Linked DNA regions of Homo sapiens. The protein of the gene in region 2 purifies or fractionates together with the protein of the main gene of each other region. This does not show direct contact. Each region holds a gene or a part of one and is shown on either strand. Other genes may lie near its edges.

What was found. The genes of interacting proteins can lie anywhere in the genome.
Region 1: the proteins of VIPR1 (region 2) and DYM purify together in Homo sapiens (co-immunoprecipitation; 3 studies listed by BioGRID and IntAct, with this or other methods). This does not show direct contact.

Annotation. Positions count from the first base shown.
Region 1 is NC_000018.10:49,331,236-49,339,340, reverse strand, and holds part of DYM (dymeclin), read left to right. Parts: intron 1-5,487; coding exon 5,488-5,613; intron 5,614-7,334; coding exon 7,335-7,477; intron 7,478-8,105. UniProt on the Homo sapiens protein: Necessary for correct organization of Golgi apparatus. Involved in bone development.
Region 2 is NC_000003.12:42,504,826-42,512,930, forward strand, and holds part of VIPR1 (vasoactive intestinal polypeptide receptor 1 isoform 1 precursor), read left to right. Parts: intron 1-7,925; exon of another isoform or gene 7,926-8,105. UniProt on the Homo sapiens protein: G protein-coupled receptor activated by the neuropeptides vasoactive intestinal peptide (VIP) and pituitary adenylate cyclase-activating polypeptide (ADCYAP1/PACAP).

The sequences.
Region 1 (8,105 bases), on a different chromosome or scaffold from region 2:
CAGGAAGCAGGCATGATTGGGGTCATTTTAGAGGATGCCTACTATATTTCTCAGACATATCTCTGTGGATTTTTCTTTGGCACGTGCGCATGCACGCGTGTGTGTCTGTGTGTCTGTGTGAATGGACATAGGTTCTCTAAAACTGACTATGCTGGTTAGTATTCCCATCAGCAGAGCATGAGGGTTTTTATATCACCACATGCCTGGCAACACATTACATTCTCTAGGGCATAGGGGCATATCACCTTGTTTCAGATTGCCTGTTTATATCTTTTGATTTTTTTTTTCTAGCAGAGTTCCTGCCTTTTTATTGGTTGTTGGCAGGAGTTATTTGTAATAGCCTTGATATTAGTTTCGTGTTCTTCTTTCAGTCTATTATCTGCCTGTTAACTTTGTCCAGGGATTCATTTGCTGAGCAGTAATCTTTAATTCTGATGTAATTTAATGTGTAATTTTTGCCTTTGTGGTTTGTGTTCTTAGGCTTTTATTTAATAAGTCCTTTCTTGTGCTTATGTTACAAACTTATTGTACTCTTCCTTCTATCAACTTTAGTTTTATTCACATCTAAGTCATTAAGTCTTCTGTAGTAGGTCTTGAGTATGTTGTAAGGTGTAGGGATCTGTCATTATGAAATAAAAGAGGTGTTTCCCATTACCATCTTCTGTACAATGTGTTTTTCTTCATTGATTTGTGGAGTAATCGTAATCTTTATTGTATATTATTTCCATATATACACAGGTCTGTCTTTGAATTATCAATTGGGGTCCTTTGGTTTGTTTACTTTTTATACAAATACCATGCTGTTTTTCTTACTACAGCTGTATAGAGTGGCTTGATATCCAGTAGGGAAAGTGCCCCTCTTCATTCTTTATTGTCAAGGTTGACTTGGCTATTTGTTTATTATTTCATAAAAGTGAGTCAATTTATGCAGTTCCTCAAAAAAGTCGAGTGAGAATTTTGGTTGTGATTCGTTGACTTTCTGTATTAATCTGGGTAGAATTATTATCTTCATAGTATTGTCATTCTGTTCAGATCATCCACTGTGTCCTTTTTAAATGTTTTTCTTCATAGATGTCCTATGAAGGACCAAAACATTTTATTCCAAACATTTTAGTTATTCTGGCAGTCTTGCAAAATGCTGTTTTGTTTTTGATAACCTACTATTGTTGGTTAGTGCTGCTAAGGAGAAATGCTATTTATCTTTCAAAGTTGATCTTGTATCTGGCCTAGTTGGATTTTTAAATTTATTTGAATAGTTTCTTGATTTTTTAATAACTGTTTTAATCTAACTTCTCCAATATATACATACTTTTTCCATTTTATTAATTTCTCAACTCCCAGTTCGAGTCCCTTTGCTCCCACCCCTTTCCCCCACCTTCTTTTAATCTGTTTGATCGATATTGAATTTCTTATTTTCCTTCAAAACTACCAGACCTTTTTGTGGCTGCCTTTGTATGGTTTCTTCACTTTAATGCCCTTCCCCTTCTTCTTGTTCTTCGTCTGCTCAAATATCATCATCTTTGTGAAGAATTTCCCTTCTGACCCAGGCAGAATTGGTTGCTGTTATCTCTGTGTTCCTAATACAGATAGTTCATATTCTTTCATGGGATTTGCCGGATTTCATAGTAATTTCTTTTTCTATGTTTGATTATTCCGCTGACTCTTCACTAGGACTCCTCTCTTTCTTCTCTCCTTTTTGCTCCTTCCCCCTCAATCTCTTGTCACTGCTGTGATGTTCTCAATCTCTTGTCACTGCTGTGATTGGCTATGTTCTCAGGCAGGATCCATCGACAGAGAAAACCAGTAGCAGCTCTATCCATACATAGTTCTTAGCACTCACAATCTCAGAAGGAGAGAGTGCCTCTTTTCTGATAGTTCCAGAAGTGCTGGGAAGGATTTTGACAAAGACCATTTTTATTGGCCAAACGTGGATCACCAGAAGGCAGAGTCGTGCCCCATCCAATCCACATGTATGGAGGGGAGGGAGGTTCTCAGGAGGACAAAAGGGCTGCTTTTGCCAGAAGAACAGGAGGTGGATGTTGGTCAGGCAAAATCAACAGAGGACAGCTGTAAGCCAGTCAACAACATTCTGGATCCTTCTTTCATGAAATTCCCTTTACATTTTTGTTGCAATGAGTATTCCATTTGTGCTTATGAATACATATTACCTGACCTCAGCATTCTTCTTCCTCTTTGCTATCCTAAGTTATATATGCCTTGTACGCTTTGCTGATGGATCTATTAAGGAAGGTATTCAATAAGTTTCCAGTCAAAATGAAAACAGTAAAGATCCCTCCATCTTTCCATTTATTTATCCATTGAGTACCTATTATATACTAGAGTTGAGAATATAAACAACAGCAAAAATGAAAGGTTCTCTAGCTAGAGTCTCATATATTATAGTAAGAAAGATTTGTAAGTAATTGCCACTCATACTCCAGGTTTTAAATGCCACTTTTTAAGAGACGCTTTCTTTTGATCCCATAGTTACTATCAGAGTGTCCTGTAATCCTCTCCTGTTATTACTTGTTTTTTTCCTTTATAGTCCTTTTTGGAGTGATTATTATTTGATTTTTCTTTTTTCCACTAAATTGTAAGCTTCATAAAGGCAGGAGCCTTGTCTATTTGTTGATGGATATGTCCCCAATATGTAGCATAATGCCTGTCTAGAGATAGTAAGAATAAATTTTTAATCAATATTTGTTGAACATCATATGAGCAAAAATACTGTGTGATAAGCAATTTGATATAATTTGTTTCTCTGGGCCTACGGAAGACACACATGGTTCTGTTTAGGAATTTGGGGAAATGGGTTTTTAGCTTGCAGTGACTCTTATTGTCATGTTGTATTGCTTCAGTATTCTTATGTGCTGGAAGCTTTCCTTACCTCCCAGCATCAAACCCTCTACTCTTCATTCTTCTACATTTATAGGATTCCACGGTAAGAGAGGATGATCCAAGGTTAACACTTTTTTTGTTCTCTCACTTCTGATTGTGTTTGGCCCAATTAATTTTGAAGGAGAAGAACACTTTTTTCTAAATACGTATTCTTTCCCTAAGGTTATTAGACCTAGTAATTATTAATAGTCATAGATTTTGGTTTAAGCAAAACTAAAACAATTTAGTAAAACAATTTGTTTCTAGATCTGAGGCATACAGTAAGATGTTAAATTGTAAACCACCACAGCTGATTCTTTATTATTGATGCAATGACAAAATACATTTGCAGTCTGGCACGATGGCTCATGCCTGTAATCCCAGCAGTTTGGGAGCCCCAGGCAGGCAGATCACTTGAGCACAGGAGTTCCAGATCAGCCTGGGCAACATGGTAAAACCCCCTCTTTGTAAAAAAGACAAAAATTAGCTGGGCATGATGGCGTCTGCCTGTAGTCCCAGCTACTTGAGAGGCTAAGGCAGGAGGATCACTTGAGCCTGGGAGGTGGAGGTTGCAGTGAGCCAAGATCGCGCCACTAGGTGTCAGCCTAGGTGACAGACACAGACCCTGTCTCCAAAAAGAAAAAAAAAAAAGACAGAAAACGTTTGCAAATGTATTGGACATAGTCATCCATCTGCCTATCTAAATAGGCTCTAACTCACAGCCAAGTATTTGTTATGTCAGGATTTGGCTTTAAACTCTGACCCAGGTGAAAAGCCTAGCCAGGAGACTATTGTGTATGGATTCCAGACAGGCGTGGGCTATGTTTTGAATGAATGATTATTGTGATACAAAATTTTTGGGGGTTCTGAGCACCCAAATCAAATCATCATTAGTAAATCATAACATGACATGAAACATCAAGTTTGTCTTTCATTCAATTCATGAAAGAAGAACAAATACAAGAATTGCTTTATTTTATTTTTTAAATTTTTTATTTTTATTTTTTGAGACAAGAGTCTCACTCTGTTGCCCAGGCTGGAGTGCAGTGGTGTAATCTCAGCTCACTGCAACCTCCACCTTCTGGGTTCTAGTGCCTCAGCCTCCTGAGTAGCTGGGATTACAGGCATGTGCCACTATGCCCAAGAATTGCTTTTTACAGGTTAATTTTTACAACAGTGATTATGGAAATTTCAGGAAAGAGATTGTTCTACAATACTTTAAAAGTCAGATTTCTGAGTAGAGCTGAGCTTTATTCAACCACGTAATAAGGCTAATTGCGTGGGTCTCTTGTGTTTTTCTTTTTTTATATGTCATTTTTAAATATATTTCTTTTTCTTTCTTTATTTTTTGTTTTTGAGATGGAGTTTCGCTCTTATCGCCAAGGCTGGAGTGCAATGGCACGATCTTGGCTCACTGCAACTTCCGCCTCCCAGGTTCAAGCCATTCTCCTGCCTCAGCCTCCCTAGTAGCTGGCATTACAGGTGCCCGCCACCATGCCCAGCTAATTTTTTGTATTTTTAGCAGAGATGGGGTTTTACCATGTTGGCCAGGCTGGTCTCAAACTCCTGACCTCAGGTGATCCACCCGCTTTGGCCTCCCAAAGTGCTGGGATTACAGGCGTGAGCCACTGAGCCTGGCCTTTTAAACATATTTCTATCAGTAATAACTCCTTAAGATATCTGGTAGAATTTAAATTTTTCTAGTTCTAGAATCAAGTCATCATTAATTTGTTTAATGAGCTTTCATTTAAGTAGGTGTTAAGTATTTTTCTTTGTTTTTCATAATTATTTCATTTTTATAAAAATATTTTAGTATTCTTTTGGTGCTATTGCTCTTTTTACTGCGTTGTTGAGGTTTCTACTTCCTTGGTCTTAACATGTTCCCCATTATAATCCTGTTTAAACTTTTGCAGTAACTGGAAATTTCTGGATGCCTTTATTCCTCTGTGTGCTTTCTGTTCAGCTGAATCTTTTTCTTTTTATTTGATCTAAGACTTGTTTCCCAAAGGGGTTTATGATCTTGAGAGGACAGAGTAACCCTTCATAATCAAAATATGCTTAATAAAACAGGAATAACTTGTTTACTGTTAATATTTTGCTGAACATGCAAAGTTGACCTTGAGAAAGGTAGGCACTAGAGACACAAGATCTAGGGTGTATTATTGTTCTGATTGTAAAGTGATCATCAACATGAAAAGGCATTGTTTTCTTCCCTACACTGTACCTTCTCTTCAGCTTTACAATCTGAGTATTTGTCTCTGTATTATCACTAAACAGAAATGAACATAGATGTCTAGAGTGAATCTTCAAAACAGAACACTGCTAGTAACTATTTCCATTATACATAAATAGACTTGTCATTTAATAGGAGATGGAAACTGGAAAATAGGGAAATAAAGGGATAACTAACCCAAATACACCAGCTAATGACAGGGAAGGAGTTTAATATTTTTGCTTGACTTAATTTTTGTATTAAACGTATTAACATTTTTCAGTAACCTGAAAATACTGAATATTTAGATTTGAGTTTTTAAATGTATAGTTCATTTAGAAAAGAATAGTGTCTTAATCTTCCAAAGTGACTGTTACTCTGTTTTTCTTCCATTTTAGAGATATTACATATGAAATATCAGTAGAAGCTATATCAACAATGGTTGTTTTCCTTTCCTGCCAACTCTTCCACAAAGAAGTTTTGCGACAGAGCATCAGCCACAAGTATTTGATGCGAGGTCCATGGTATGTTTCTACTTTAAGTATGTCTAGTTTTTTCATTGTATAAATCTATATTTCTAGTCTTGTCCTTTTACCTGAGTATCGTCCCATATCTCCAACCAGGTATTTCCTCTAGTTGTTCTATTGTCTCTTTAAACCCAGTGCATAGGGAACCGCATTCTACTTTCCTGTGCCATCTACCCATCCTCCCTGTTCTTCCTGTCCCGTAGCTTCATTACCTTCTCCAGTGGTTGCTTCGTAGAATTGAAACTTTGAAATCATCTTTTTCTTCCATCTCCTTCATTCTGTCTATGTTTAAGCAGTCAAGTCATATTTGTTATTCAGATTATTTTTGTATCTTCCTCTTCTCAGCAGTCCCTTTGAAACACCTGTGATCTATGCCCCCTTACTCTCTTTGGACTTCTCCAGCAGCCTCTTCGCTGACTATTCCTACTTCTTTGAGCCTGCAAATATTTGCTGTGTGCTATCCATGTGCCAGGCATGTTAGACTGTGGGGCTATGCTCTTGAGCAGAAGCTTACGATCTCCTAGAGGGTGTGGATGCAAATGACCAACACATATGCACATACCTGACCTTTTATTAACATAATCTTCACAAAACTTTAAAAATGTAAAACAAATCCAAATAAAGTACCTTTGAGGAAAGTTCTCAGATAGTGGGGAGCTTTGTCTTCTTCATATTCTTTTTGCTACCCTGATTATTCCTGTGGCATGTATGTTCTTTGAACATATTTGAAAATCACTGAGGGAAAGGATCTGGGCTTTGGAGTCAGAGGTTTGCATTGGAACCCTCTCTGACAGAGACACTCAGAATGACACTCAGAATGACCGTGGTTTGAAGTAGTGCTGGCATCGTGGGACTGTGTGCATCTTTGCTGAAACAAGATTGTGAACTTCATCCCTTATAGTGCCAGAGTATTCAAGTTGCTTTTTAAAAATAGACATAGAGGGTGTTAGTGTTCTTATTTTCTAAGTAAGGTTTTTATAGTATCATTATGGTGCCACATATTTAAACCGTAATATGTTCTTTACTTATTTTTGGGGTTCATCTTGGAAACCATATTTAAAAAGCTCAATAGTACATTAAAGAATCTGTTAAAAAGTTTACTCTATATTGCAGGAATTAGTTTAATACCAATTGAATAATTGAATAATTTCATACTTAAAAAGTGTAGTCCTATTGTTATTTTTAAATTCTTGCTTTTTTCTACTGATTCTTTATTACTACTTCCCTTCAATTGCCAGATAATGTGTTATGCACTAAATTTATAATAGCTCACAGTGTTATACCGAATGTAGATAAAGTAACTGGAGTTCAAGAGTTCAAGTGGGCTGGGCACGGTGGCTCACGCCTGTAATCTCAGCACTTTGGGAGGCTGAAGCGGGAGGATCGCTTGAGTTTAGGAGTTTGAGACCAGCCTGGGCAACATAGTGAGACCTTGTCTCTACCAGACCTTGTTTCTCCCCACTGCAGAAAAAAAGTATTTAAGTAATTTGATCAATATCTTATGATGTGATAAGAGGAAAAGCAAGGATTAAGCCTCAAAATTGCTCTCAAAGCCCATGGTCTTCACTGTTGTGTGCAGTGCTCAATTTCTGTGAGTTGTGCCAATAGCCCTTTTGTATTAACAGATAGTGTTAATGGCAGAATTATTTCTGTATTGTTATTCAGAATTAGATGACTCCCATAAATATGAGTTTGATTTTTTTTTCCTTTTTGTATAGTCTTCCATACACCAGCAAACTTGTGAAGACCTTATTATATAACTTTATCAGACAAGAAAAGCCACCTCCTCCAGGGGCCCATGTTTTCCCTCAGCAGTCGGATGGGGGAGGACTGCTTTATGGACTTGCATCAGGAGTAGCAAGTAAGTTTTATCAGATTTTTTCAATTCTTTGGTGCACATAAATTTTATCTATTTAGGCATAAGAAATTCTGTTTGCTTGGCTGCCACCATTAATAGTTACATTGAATTTGTGCAGCTGGTTCAATGTGAAAACAAAGTAATTAAAATATTAATCTTTCTGTTTTGTGCGGTGATTTATGTAAAATGTATGCAAATAATGAATGGATTACCTACAAAACATCGTTTTTCAGGAAGAATGTTTACACATAAATATGCGTATTGCATGAATTGTAGCTGTATAGTAAAAATAAAATTAAGCATTTGAAAACTTATAACACTACTTGTATTATAAGAGGAAATCTATTTTAGGTTATTTTAGGGTATATTTTGGTTAGGATTTCATGTGACTAATTAGGTGCAGTTTTCCTATTACACTAAGTGCTTTCTTCAGTGACAACTGAATATTTTGCAGAATTTTGTAATAAGCTGTGAAATGGCACAAACTTGAGTTTTGTTTGATTGGGTGCAGATTTCTTAAGTGAAGAAAGCTCTTCCCTACCTTACAATAAGTCCTCATTTCTGCTTCACTTCACAGTATTCAGACTACAGACACTAGAAGTAAGAGAGTAGTTCTGGTGGAGGGCCTGGG
Region 2 (8,105 bases):
AGGCCCAAGGCCTTATCACTCCTGTTTATGGTGCCCTGACTTCAGCCTGGGAAGGAGAAATCTCTGAAAAGGGAGGCAAAAAAAAAAAAAAAAAAAAAAAAGGAAAGAAAACCTCCAGTGTCTCAGAGGAGGAAGTCTGCCCCAAGGCCACCTGTCAAGCCTTCCACTGCCCCTGCCCCCCGGACAGCAGGCACAGGGACTCCTCATCCAGAAGCAGAGCTGCTCAGGGCAATGCCCAGTACGAGGCTGGGGGAGGAGGGTCACAGGCCTCCTCGTGGGAAATTCTCTATCTGGTGTGGGAGACCAGACCCAGTGACTTAGGAGAAAGAGTCCAGGTGGATGTGGGGTACAGCCTCCTAGAACTGGGGCAGGGGTTGCTGAGAGGAACAGTCAGGGGAGGCTCCTGGAAGAAGCAGGACTGTGCCCTAAAGAGTTTGACCAGATGGGCCAATCTTTCACCCTAAACCATAAAACAGCCTCTGTTGACAGGACCAATGGGCCTGCCCCCAGAAGGAGGAGTCCCAGGGACTGGGAGAGGCTCGACTTCTCCCCAACTCTGAGGTTGATCAGTGGCCACAAGCTCCTGAAGGCCTTGCCTTGCCACCGGCATCCTGCTGCCCCTGCCACCTGCCTCTAGCCTCTCCAGAGGCGGACCACAGCTGCCCAGGCCCTCTTGGCCCCCAGCAGGCCACCCTGTGAGCTTTGGGAAACATGGCTGCATCTGGGTCAGGCCTCCTCCTCAAGTGAGGTTACCACCTCAGTTAGGCCTGGCCAGGGCTCCCAGGGTACCATGCTGGAAAAGCGAGCCCTTTTGGAAGTTTCTACCCTCCTGTCCTGGTGCACTAAGACTATGCCTTCTCTGAGGTTTGTGGGACATCCTTGGGGAGCCCAGGCTGGAAACAGGAGAGCTGGTCCTCACTCCACTCCATGGCAATGGCTTGACCTTGGGAACATCTTTAACTTTTGTGGAAGGGCCTCGGGTTCCTCACCACAAAAGGGAAGGTGAGAGGCCTCCGCCCAGTGTGCAGGAGAAGTGGGAGGAGAGGGTTAGGCTGGAGCCAACTCTGCCTCCTGAGTGGGACATAATCTACCCCTGGAGCACCAGGGTCTCTGTGAAAGGGGGTTTGTCTTTCAAGCAGGACTTCTGTGAGCTTTGAAGGAGGTAAAGGTTGTGAAGGTGGCTATGTGAACTGTGTGACTGTCATCCCTTCTCCTACGTCCCCAGCTTGGGAGCCCTGTGCAAACTTATACAGCTATTTCTGGCCCCCATCTTCCCACAGGTTCCCAGGGCAGCAGGAGTCCTGGGGAATGGGGGACGTTTCCTCATTAGGTGGCCAAAACATTTTGGGGGTAAGGCTCCAGGCCTAGGTAGGCAATGGGGCCTCTCAGAGCAGATGGGCCTTCACAACGTGGGCAGCCTCAGTGGAAATCCAACATGGGCCATGAGACCAGGGTAGGGGCTCTAACCTGCCACGTGCCACAACTCTGCCATTGCTGGGCCCTTCACTGTGGCTCCTTTGGCCATGGAGCAGGGAATGGGGCCTGGGGACTATGTAAAGCCTAGTCCCTTTCTTAAATCCTTCTGTTCAACCCCCAGATTCTGCCTTCCCCTCTCTGACTTCTTAACACAAAATGATTTTTATTGTACCCATTGAAAATGTCAGTATGTACTCTCTCACATAACTTAGAAGTATTTCCTTTTTTTCTTTTTTTTCTTTTTGAGATGGAGTCTTGCTCTGTCACCCAGGCTGGAGTGTGGTGGTGTGATCTTGGCTCACTGCAACCTCCAGCTTCCAGGTTTAAGCGATTCTTCTGGCTCAGCCTCCCTAGGAGCTGAGATTACAGGCTCCCGCCACCATGCCTGGCTAAATTTTGTATTTTTAGTAGAGACAGGGTTTCGCCATGTTGGCCAGGCTGCTCTTGAACTCCTGGCTTCAGGTGATCCACCTGCCTCAGCCTCCCAAAGTGCTTGGAATTACAAGCATGAGTCACCACGCCTGGCCCCTTAGAAGTATTTCTGAAGAAGAAAAAAACAGTTTAATCTCTCCACCACGTGTATAGTGTTTTAAATTTTTACTTTTTTTGTGAAAATTTTTAAACAAGCAGAGACAACATTATAATGAACGTGCAAATACCCAATTCCGAGGTTTGACAATTGTTAACATCTAACAATTAATATATGCTTCATTTGCTTTTGGGCTGAAGTATTTTAAAGTAAATTATAAACCTCCTGACCTTTTACCCCAAATCATTTCAGAATGCATCTCTAAAACCAAAGGACACTCTTCTATATAACTATGATACTGTCATTACACACCTAACAAAATTGACAGGAATTGCTTAATATCTAATATTCAAATATCCCCAGCCGGAATGTAATGAAGTGCCACAGGATGAGTGGTGATATTATCCAGGGCTTGGTCTTCTCGCAGGAGTTTCATGTCTGTGTCTGACGGGACTGTCCAGCGAGCTGGCAGGGAGAAAGCAGGGTGCCTTGGCAGTGAGCCTCAGGCTAGCCTCCACTGGGAGGACCCAGTCTTTTCGTGCAGCCCCTCTCATGCGGCCCATTATCTCTCAGGAAGTGCCTCCTACTACCTAACTTCAAAACAAGTTCTTCCTGCACAGCAGGTCACCAGAGGAGGGGGAAGAGGCCACCAACCAATCTCCATGTACTAAGGACTCATAGCCTTGTGGCTGCCTGTGCTGGAGTCCAGCCCTCTGCAGGTGGCTCCAACACCAACGTCACCCACAGGCACTGTGTTTATAAGCTGAGTCCTGCAAACTCCAGTTCCCTAGGTGTGGCCAGGATCGTGAACAAGCAGCAGAGGATTTAAACTAAATGCTTAGCCTGTGTTCCTCTGCAAATAAAGGCTTCATGCCCCCAAAAGAAACCTTCCAAGAAGAACCCTTAGATGGGAACAAGCTAAGTGTCTGTGCTTGGGTTCTGCTAATTATGAGAGCCCTTGTCCTGATATCACTCTGAGATGTGGAAAGTTCTTCTTACCCAAAGCACAATCCTGTATCCTTATGTCTCCCCCTCTTCCTCCCCATCCCCATCAACACTCACACAGCAGTTCTCATTCTCTTCTTCTACCAGAGCTCAGCCTTCCCCAAGAGGAAGTGAGGCTGGCAAAAAAAAAAAAAAAAAAGAATTTGCAGCGGGGAGGCTTTGGGCTGTTGGCTAAGGGATGTAAAAATACAAGGAAGAGAAATCAGTACGGGGCGAAGGTAACTGGCAGACTTGAGACCTCTGGTGGGTACGGCTGGCACTTGTCAGTGGGTAGGACCTTCAGCCTACCTGGGGTTATGCAAGGCACTACGGCTGTGGCTAGGCTTGGATGTGGACAGCAGGGGCAGCCTGGCATGAGGACTGGACTAGAGCTTTGGCAGTCGCTGCTAACCCCCCTGGTGCCTGGCTGGTGTCTTTTACATGTGACCCTCAACCCCAATTCTAGAAGTAGGTGGTATTGTTATTGTCCCCATTTTATAGATGAAGTTGAGTAAATTGCCCAAGTCATCCAGCCAGGAAGCAGCAGACAGTCTCATTCTGGAACCTGTGGTCTGAACTAGGCTCTGCCACCTCGTGAAGAGGGGCTACTACTTCCAGGGTGGGCGACGGCGTGTCACATGCTGCGCTGGGACTTTAGATATTTTTAAAATTAGTAAAATATAGAAATCTGAATTGACAGCTCAGTGAATTGTCACATATGTGTACACCTGTGTCACCACTGCCCAGGTCAAACTATTATACATTCCCATCACCCTAGCAGGCTGCCCTGCAATGAGGGGAAGTCTTATTTTGATTTCCTTTAGTGCTCTCTGCAAAGCTGGGAGCATGTTTCTCCTTTCTTTTGTGACTCCTGGATCCCATGATCCAACTTATGTCCTTTACCCACTCCTTTTCTGCCCTTCCTCCTCCCACCTTTTCTCTCCTCTCTCCCCTCTTGCCTCCCAACTACAAGGGCTGCACGTTCTCGCCCACTCACGTGCAAAAGCCAGCAAGGATGGGAAGGTGAGCTGCTGTCCTGTGTGCCTGTGATCACACTGCTTTCTCTCTGGCTCCTCCATTCCCCCTGTGTCTCTTTTTTACCCCATGATTTCAGCAGGGGGCTGGCAGAGTAGAGTAAATAAGTCGTGAGATATGAGATGGTTTCTGTAAAGGGCTAGGGTCATGTGGGAGAGGGTAAATGAAACCACTCCTGAGCCCCCTGTCCTCTACTCCCCATTCCCCTGCCTCCATTAACAGTTGCAGGCTGGAAAAAAATAAAATAGCCCTCTTGACAAACCTCAGAAGCACAAATCATCCATGGAGGCTCTGCATGCTTGGCAATTTGCAGACAGTTCTTTCTCCTGCCTCACCTTATCCAGCCTGCTGCATTCTGTGCTCCTCTCAGAGACCAGCTTCTCCTCGGAGGGACTCATGCTTCCTGCTGTGCTACTTGGCTCCTCCTGCCCTAGTTCTCTGGCCCCAGATGATGAGGCTGGGGCTTCTGATTCGAGGCAGTAGCTGTGGTCTCAGGCTTCCCTTGAGGGGATTGAACATGGCCTACGAACCTGAGCATGGCCCACCCTGTCTTTCAGAGCCCCTTGCATCTAACAGCTACAACTCCCAGCATCTTCACCCATACCCCCATCACCACACCTAGCCTTTGCTCCAGATCTCAGAGAACCCCACATGGACAGGAAAAAGCAGGGCTTTCTCTCTAGCCCCTCACCAATTCCTATGCTTGACTGAGCTCCAAAAAGTAAGCTTAAAGGCAGCCTGACCCTGCCGTTGAGCTGAGGCTAGAGAGTTTTGGTCCAGGCTGGGCTCTCAGCACCTTCTTTGGGGCAGGAGTTCCTAAGCCCAGAAGGGACCCAGGCTGAAGAAGACTGAAGAAGTCCACAGCATCTTCTCCATCCTGGTCTTCTTCTGTCCTCTGCCATGGGGCTAGCGGGATGTGGGAGGTGAATGACAGGGAGTTGGCAGGAGAATCCTGAGTCTAGTTGGAGACAGGGACTAACCAAGTCTTGTTCATTCCACCTGCCCCCTCCTCTCTGTGCCCTCTCTTTATACCCACTGTCCTGCCCAGGCTTCATCAGTTCCTGCCTGGACTGGTGCAGTAGCTTTCAGCCCCACCACCTGCAACCTGAGGGATCTTTGTAAAATGTGTATCCCCCATCCTCAGTCTCCTGCTTCAAGTCTCTGTTGGCCCCCATGGCCTAGGAGTGAAAGCTCACACTTGAAAACTGGCATTCCAGGCCCTTCCCAATCCTACCCCAGTCTACATCTCTCAACTTGTCTCCTGATGCCCCCAGAACTCCTTGCTGCAGCTACACCAGGCTTCTCACAGCCTTGCATGTATTAGGCATTTTCATGCCTCCATGCCTGTGCACACGCTGCTCTACTTTCTGGGGTGCTCTTACTCCACTTCTAATTGTCTAACTTGCACATCCTCCATGACCTACCTCTACAGAATGAGTACAGCATACCCATTCTGTAGGAAGCCCAGACTCCAGCTATATCCCACCCTGGAACACTTCCCTGACATCAGTAGACTTGGCTATATTCAGCCAGGGAATTTTTCAACTCTCTCTGTGTTCCTGAAGTCCAGAGGGATAATGAGGATGTTTAGAATAGGGAAATAAATAAGTGGGAGAGGAAGTCCAAAGTCTGCCTGAATTCCTTAGTGATAAGGACTAGAGGGAGCTGCCCTGGCCCGGTCCCTCAAAGGGCAATGGTTGACCAGAGGGTCCAAGGCGAGGCTGTGTTGAAGGATTGATGCAGTCCAGACCAGCGGTCAGAGACTTAGGTCCCATCTGGGAATGCGCATTTGCTGGGTGACCTCAGGTCCCTCTTTGGGTCTCCATTTCCTCTACCCCTCCCCAGATAGGGCTCAACACTAAACTAAATTGTGACAAAGAGAGAGCTCATCTTCCAGACCACACCCACTGTTTCATAAACACCACAGGCTTCGGTACCCACCCCTCCTTTCTCTCCAAACTGCCTCTAAGGAAGGGCTGTGTGTCTGTGCTGCTGAGGGGGCAGAGTTGGCTGGAGAAGTTGACCCAACACTCTTCTACCCTCAGAGAGTCGCAAGCAGAAGCTGCCAGAAATCCTAGGCGCCCATGGTGATTGGGAAACAAATATTTCTTGGCAAACTATATGGCCACAGTCCTGGCTTAAGAAGGCCCAGAAAGTGAGGGCGTCCATTATCTTGTCCTCAGAGGGCAAGGCTGGACACTTTTGTTTACAGCGACCAACAGAAAACTCAACTGATCCAAGCCATAAAGGAAAGGCATCAGCTCATGTTGCTAGCAGTAGAGCTGGTTTCAGGCATGGCTGCATTCACAGACCCAGACAATATTAAGAGAACCTGATTTTTCTCCATCTCTCTATTCTGCCTTCAGCTGTATAGTTTTTATCCGTGTGTTCCACTTGTCAACAAGAAGACAGCAGAAGCTTGAGCCCTTGCTTCCTTTAAGGTTTCCAGTCCAGTGGGGAAAAACCAAATTCACTTTCTTAATCACTTAATCCAAAGTCCCAGGAGTGAGCCTCCTGGCTCTGAGTAGCCTGACTCAGGCCATGTGTCAGGCACTGTGGCCAGGAATGCTCTGATGGACTTAAGCCTTGGTCACATGTCAATCCCCTGGAAGAGGGTTCATCAGAACTCCATGAACTAGAGGTAGGGAAGGAGGTTGTTTCCCAGACACAGATGAGGACATGGCACCAGAAGAGAGTAAAGGATGGTGGAAGGCAGAAACAAGAGATATCTGCTACCATCCATCCTGTTTTGACGTTACAGTGTTATGAGAGATAAGAATGGACAGGAGAATCAGGAGACGCTGGGAAGGGGCCAGAAAGCAGAAAGAACCCTGTTGCTGGTGGGAGATGGGGTTGGGATGGTACCTTGGTGAGAAATGTGCTCCAAGACAGGCAAGACAGACCAATGATGGGACACAAGGCAGGGTAGCCAGTACCCAGATTCCTCTTCCAGAAGCCACCTCTGAGATCTTCCTGGCCACTATTCCCCCTATACTTGAGGATGAAACAGCCACAAATCCCTTGAGACAGAGTGTCTTGAGCATTTCAGCCTGAGTAACCCTTATGGGAAGGAGAGAAAGCACATGACCCCAAAGAGGAACCACAGACAGTTTCCTTGAAGTCTCCTATCTTTTAACAGTTATACGAGTAACTGTATCATGCTCCATCACACAACTGTGTTACTTTCAATAAGTTTTAAATGACTTACCAGCTAATGTCTTTACCCCCATTGGCTGGTAAAGGTGCAAGATGGAGCTCGTGCTCACTGTGGCTTCCAGGGCAACAGCACTTAGGCAGGTGAGGTCTGGATGCTGGGGAAATCTAAAGGAGTCCTGGAGAGGGAGGCCTTCCCTGGACCTGGACGAGGTCAACCATGGTGCTAGCTGCTTCTGGGAGTGTTGGCCTGCAGGTGACCTGTGAGACAGAGGCTCCACCAGAGAGCCCTCAACAGGAATGAGAGAGCTGTTTGGGGTGGAAAGGACTTGGCTGTGCAGCTTCTTAGGCACTGAGTTGTTCAGCTTCAGCTTGGACCCCTCTCCCTCCGCAGCAATGGATTGCTGGCTGCCAGCTGGGATGCACATCCCAGTAAATGGAGCTGATTTACTTAAAACAATGGTCAAAGTACTAAGCACTTTGGTGCCTGCAGGCCAGGAGGGACCCCCTTAAAGGAAGGTCCCCCACCTATGTTCTTCCCACGGACCCACTTCAAGAATCTCTAAGTCGGCAGGGGAGGTGGTTGAGGCCCACGTAGCCTACAGAGAAACTGAGGCCCAGGGAGGTAAGGACCCTGTCCCAGGGTGGGAGGGACAAGCTGGAGGAGACACTGAGAATGTCTGATTCTGGAGTGGTCTTGCTGGACTCTCTTCTATGGCCCTGGTGGAAACTGACATTCTTCTCCCAGGCAGAGATGAGGAAACTGGTGTGGGGTTGCCGGGGCCAGCAACCACTTTTCTAAAGCCAAAGACGCAGAAGGTGCTGCCAGTCCAACGCTTCCTCCATGGAGGCCTTCACCCACCCACACCCATCTAAGAGTTCCCAAGACCTGTTTTTTCTGGCTATTCCTAGACAGCCATCACCCCCA